Linked DNA regions of Homo sapiens: region 2 is linked to region 1. The links come from fine-mapping of genetic effects on gene expression. A gene starts in region 1. The other region holds a variant in brackets. All regions are shown on one strand. Distances are between the middles of the regions. Region 1 holds the start of ZNF444 (zinc finger protein 444). Region 2 has its middle 10 kb from the start of GALP.

The links. PIP is the estimated chance that this variant, and not a neighbour inherited with it, causes the effect. A credible set is the group of variants that fine-mapping cannot tell apart.
Region 2: its variant is the best candidate, but not a certain one, in a credible set for the expression of ZNF444 in fibroblasts (GTEx, PIP 0.53).

The regions. Positions count from the first base shown.
Region 1 is chr19:56,139,986-56,142,894 of GRCh38, reverse strand. ZNF444 (zinc finger protein 444) reads right to left here and starts at 1,608. Exons shown (of 5, transcript NM_018337.4): 1 at 1,538-1,608. RefSeq lists enhancers at 1,646-1,785, 1,816-2,145.
Region 2 is chr19:56,164,055-56,166,963 of GRCh38, reverse strand. No RefSeq gene overlaps it. Among named protein-coding and RNA genes, the nearest start is that of GALP, 10 kb to the left of the region's middle. The variant A/C (reference allele first, on the strand shown) is at 1,813.

The DNA.
Region 1 (2,909 bases):
TCCAGAGTCCACACCAGTTCCACCTAGTACCCCGGCACCAGCACCCACATATGCTGGGTTAATATCATGGCTAAGAGGCTGTGGAGTCTGGCTGCCTGGCTTCAACTTCCAGCTCTGCCACTCATCAGCAGTGTGACTGTGGACGTGTGACTTACCCCCTCTGTGCTTCATTTCTCCACCTGAGACACAGGACTAACAAGAGCTCCTTCCTCTCAAGAGGCTGCTGGGAGCAGGAGTTAGAAGCAGCCTCCAAAGGCTAAGTGCTCGACAAAGACCGGTTTGTCTACTCTAGGTTCCCAACCTCGACATTAATGGCACTTGTGTCGTGGCGGGCTATCCTGTGCAACATACGATGTCTACCAGCATCTCTGCCTCTTTTCATGAGATGCCAGTAGCACTTCCCAAGTTGGAAAAACCAAAAAAAAAGTCTCCAGACATTGCCACATGTCCCCTGGGGGACAAAACCACTCCTGGTTGAGAGCCGCTGGCCCACTGGACAAATATTTACCTACGGCACAAAGGCTCTGGGGCAAATTCCAGCTCTGCCTCCTACCAGCTCTGTGTCCTTGGACGAGGTACAAGGCACCTTTTGTAATACCCTGTATCTCCATTTCGTTGACTGTAAAGTGATAGAAGGAGAACAAAAATGCTGAGAACCACACCTGGCTAGTAAGTGTCCAGTCAGACTTAGGGTTACTTTGTCGAAGTTTCCCTGCGAGGTGCCCAGGGGACACTGCTATGAACACGCACGCAGATTAAAATACTAAGTATACATTGGAATAGGCGTTAAAATCGGATATAGAGGAGGGTGACTCCATCCTGACTGGGGTAGAGGTGGCGGGGGTCAACTTCATTTGACAATAAACAGAGTTTCTAAGCACTTTACACATATTACCGAAGGTAATAATGCCTTGCAACAAGCTAAAAAGGCAGATGCTCCGCACTGAGAAAGCAGCAAAACAGAGCAACGATTCTTATCTTCAGGAATCTCACAACTCTGTAAAAGTTGCACTTGTAGAAGCAGCGCGCAAAACGAGCCACCTGCGCCGTATCTACGTTACAACAATAACCATCGTCCCCGGAAGCCCCTTCCCGCAAACCTTTCCGAAGGGGTCCGGTCCCGGCGCCCCCAGACTCCTTTGTAGGGTCCAGCTTCCCACTCAGCTTTCATCTCACAGCCCACCCTCTGCTAGGGTCCCCTTCCCCTCCCCCACCTGTCCCTCCCCCGTCCCGCCCCTCCCCCTCCCCCAGGCGCCCCTCCCCCGTCCTCTCCCTCAGCATTTCTCTCCCGCGTTCAGGACCTCGAGGATCCACGACCCCCTCCCACTATCCACCCCTCCCCCTCTCCAAGTCCCTCCCCCTCTAGTTCCCTCTCCCAGCCCCTTCCCCATCACTCAGCCCCCTTCTCCTCCCCTCCCCGCAAGTCTCCCATCTTTCCCTCCTGAGGCCCCCGGCGCCCCTCTTCCCATCCAACCTCTGGTCCCTCCCTCGTCCAACCGCCCCCACCCAATCCCTCCCTCCTTCCCCCCTCGCTCACCTCACTCTCTCAGGCGAGGCCCCCCAAGCCCCCTCACCTCCCCGCACATGCGCACAAAGCTCGCCGGGACTCCATGCCCCAGCAGGCTTTGCGCCAAACTCCCCCGTCCCCCTCCCCCAATCCCATACTCCGAGCCGCTCGTTCAGCCCAACAACTCCCCATGAAGCCCCGGCCTCACCCCGAACTACAACTCCCAGGAAGCATCGCGGCAAAGGCGGCTGCCAATTGGCCCTCGCCTGGGGACCGCCTTACTCCTGTTTGTCACCGCGTGGCGTCTTCGCCAACACTGGAACTACATTTCCCAAGATACGCGAAAGCGTCGTCTGCAGCCTATTTGGCCTTGACGGCGCAAATGTCGCGGGCTGTCTGAGCGCGACAGGCTTTGGACTACATTTCCCAGAATGCACGAGGAGGCTTCCCAGTGGTCTGCGCGCGGGCCCTGGACATGCGCAGAAGTGCCGGGAAAAAAAGAGGGAGGAGGAGGAGGAGCCATGGCGGCGTTGTTGTGGAGATCAGGGGAGGCCGGGCACCGCCGGGCATTTGGGAGGTGGGGCCTCCGGAGCTCTAGAAGCTGGCAAGCGAAGAGGAGGAGGAGGAGGAGACCAGGCTAGAGTTCTGCGCCAATCAGGAGTGCAGGCTACGTCTCCTTGACTACGGATCGCATTTTTTTTTGTCCTCCCTCTCCACCCGGGCAGAACTTAAGGGCCGATGTCGGTGCCAGGAATCAGGACGTGAGCAGGCTGCCCTCCTGTTCCGGGGTGGGCAGTGGCTCAGGAGGGGGCCAGCGCGGGGGCCTCGGTTTGGCTCTTCCTGTGTGTGAACCTGGACAGGACACCGCCCTCTCTTTAGCCTCAGTTTCCCCTGGGGTGAATTGGGGGACAGCGCTACCTGCCACGCGTCCTCGCTGTGCCCCTATTGGACAGACTACTGCCCCGTCCTGAGGCCTCAGTTTCTGCATCTCAGAACTGTGAAGAAGCATATTTGGATTTTAGAGCAGACAGACATCCTAAGAGATCAGCTGAAGTTTTTATCTAGACAGTTCCAGACCTGATTATGGCTCATACAAGCCCTACCCCAGCCCGCAGCGTATTTCCTCCTCCGTACAACAAGGATAAGAGAATCCCCCTCCCATCCTCCACCTCCCCGGCTGATCTGAAGACTCCGCGCCATAAAAACGAAGACAGTGGCTTACCCATAACAAGCATTCATTACATGGAAGTTGTTCGTCTTATATTCATAAATGAACAACTTTCCCCAGGTTTCACAAGCGATGAGTGGCTGACTCAGAACTTTGTGACCAGTTTGCCCACGGTGGCCTAATCTGCCCTGGCCCACCTGTCTACCACTGTCTTCTCCTCGTGTTTAATGAGTT
Region 2 (2,909 bases), 24 kb before region 1:
TCTAAAAAAAAAAAAAAGCCCCACACATTTCCTGCCCATAATTCCAAAGGTCAGTGTTGCTCCAACCTCAGCCTCCCTGCCAGCCATTTCTACCACTTCATCCCCCAGAGAGGAGGGGTTGGGGACTCATCTTCACTCAATGCCAACTCTCAGAGCAATGAGGAAACAACCTCACATTTCACTGGCCCGCTATGGGGCTGCAGGGAATTCACTACAGACTTCTGGGCCTCCATCTCCTCTTTGGTAAACTGAGGAACCAGCTCAGAACTTGCAAACGGGCAGCCAAAACCAGACCCTCAGACGTGCTTTGGGTTTGTTTGTTTGCATTATGATTTTTGTTTGTTTTGGTTCCTTCATATTGTAGCTCACACAGTGCTTGCTTGCTTGCTTTATTTATTTATTTATTTTATTTTATTTTTATTGAGATGGGGTCTCGCTCTGTTGCTCAGGCTGGAGTGCGGTGGCACTATCTTGGTTCACTGCAGCCTTGACTGCCCAGGCTCAAACAATCCTCCAACCTCAGCCTCCTGGGTAGCTGGGACTACAGGCGTGTGCTTGCCACACTGGGCTAAACTTCCACACAGTGTTTTGAAAATTGCAAATCGAATCACGAGCATATAGGGTTTCAAAACTTTTACATAAAGATCTAGATTTCTGTGTTTTTCTATTTGTTTGTTTGTTTGTTTTCTGAGACAGAGTCACTGTCATTCAAGTAACTGTAGTGTAATGGCGCGATCTCGGCTCACTGCAACCTCTGCCTCCCAGGTTCAAGCGATTCTCCCGCCTCAGCCTCCCAAGTAGCTGGGGATTGCAGGCATGTACCACCACACCTGGCTAATTTTGTGTTTTTAGTAGAGATGGGGTTTCTCCACGTTGGTCAGGCTGGTCTCGAACTCCCAGTCTCAGATGATCCATCCACCTCAGCCTCCCAAAGTGCTGGGATTACAGGTGTGAGCCACCTCACCCAGCCAATGTCAGCTTTTTAAAATAAAATAAAATAAATGCCTGCATTTGTACTGTTAGCCAATTCCCATAGTGTAAATATTCCATTAGGGCCAATTTCAACATACCAACAGTTTAACAACTGGCTCACCACTGCCCCCCCAAAATCGTGAATATTTAATGATTTTTTGGGGTTTTTTTTTATTGTTTTTTTTTGAGACAGAGTCTGGCTGTGTTGCCCGGGCTGGAGTGCAGTGGCGTGATCTTGGCTCACTGTAATCTCAGCTTCCCGGTTCAAGTGATTCTCCTGCCTCAGCCTCCCGAGTAGCTGGGATTACAGGCGCCCGCCACCATGCCCGGCTAATTTTTGTATTTCTAGTAAAGACAGGGTTTCACCATGTTTGTTAGGCTGGTCTAGAGCTCTTGATCTCAAGTGACCTGCCCCCCTTGGCCTCCCAAAGTGCTGGGATTACAGGCGTGAGCCAATACGCCCGGAACTTTTCTTTTTTTTCTTTTTCTTTTCTTTTCTTTTTTTTTGAGATGGAGTCTTGCTGTGTGTCACCCAAGCCTGGAGTGTAGTGGTGCCATCTTGGCTCACAGCAACCTCCGCCTCCCGGGTTCAAGCCATTCTCCTGCCTCGGCCTTCTTAGTAGCTGAGACTACAGTTGAGCACCACCACACCAGCTAATTTTTGTATTTTTAGTAGATATGAGGTTTTACCATGTTGGCCTGGCTGGCCTCAAACTCCTGACCTCAAGTGATCAGCCTGCAGCGGCCTCCTAAGCACTGGGATTACAGGCGTGAGCATGACTTGTGGACTCCCCCCATTTAGCCCTCACTGTAACCCCCATGTTATGGATTGAATGTTAG[A/C]GTCCCCTGAAGATTCATATGATGAAAACTAATACCCAACGTGAGAATATTAAGAGGTAGCGTGTCTGTTGAGCAGTCTAGGGATGGATGGATGGATGGACAGATGGAGATATAACGATAGATAGATAGATAGATAGATAGATAGATAGATAGATAGACAATAGATAGTAAATAGGTAGGACTTTTGGGACATGATCACATCATGAGGGCTTCATCCTTGTGAATGGGATTCATGCCCTTATTTTATTTATTTTTTATTTATTTTTTTTTTGAGATGGAGTTTTGCTCTTGTGTTCACTAGGCAAATGCAGGAAGAAAGAACAACATTTTATTAATATGTGGAGCCAATGGCCTGTGCAAAAGTCCTGTAGTGGGGTGGAGGAAGGAAGGGCTGAAGGAACTGGGTGATGAGCTGGACCTGGAATGCAGACTAACTGGGGAGGGTGGAGGGTACGAGGTAGACAGGGACCACCCCATCAGGAAACTTCTAGTTGTTTTTTTTTTTTTTTTTTGAGACAGGATCTCACTCTATCGCCCAGGTTGGAGTGCAGTGGTGCAATCTTGGCTCACTGCAACCTCCACCTCCCGGGTTCAAGCGATTCTCCTGACTCAAGCCTCCTGAGCAGCTGGGATTACAGACATGTGCCACCACACCCAGCTAACTTTTATGGATTGGGGACCCAGTTAGCAATCACCTGTGAGAGAGACCAGGACTGGAGCGGCTTGGACCAGGATACTCCTATCATCGACCTCCTCCCACAGCAAGGAAGAAGCAGAGTTGAGGTTTGAACCTGGTGTATGGAACCCCAGAGCCGGAACCCTTTAGCAGGGGAGAGGAAGGGGTGAGGGGAGGGGCAGTCACCCAGGGAAATTGAGTAGAATTAACTAACCCCTGCTGGGTCCTGGCAGAGCCCCTGGTGCCAGGGCCCCCAGGAGAGGAAGCAGAAAAAAAAATCACCTCATGCCACCAGCAGGTTCTTAAAACAATCTCACCCCTCAAGCAATAAAGACGGAAGCAAGAAAGTCAAGGCCAGCATCCAAAACCACAATTCAGATGTTCTCTGGTCTGTGGTATTGGGGTTGATGGATAAAGATCG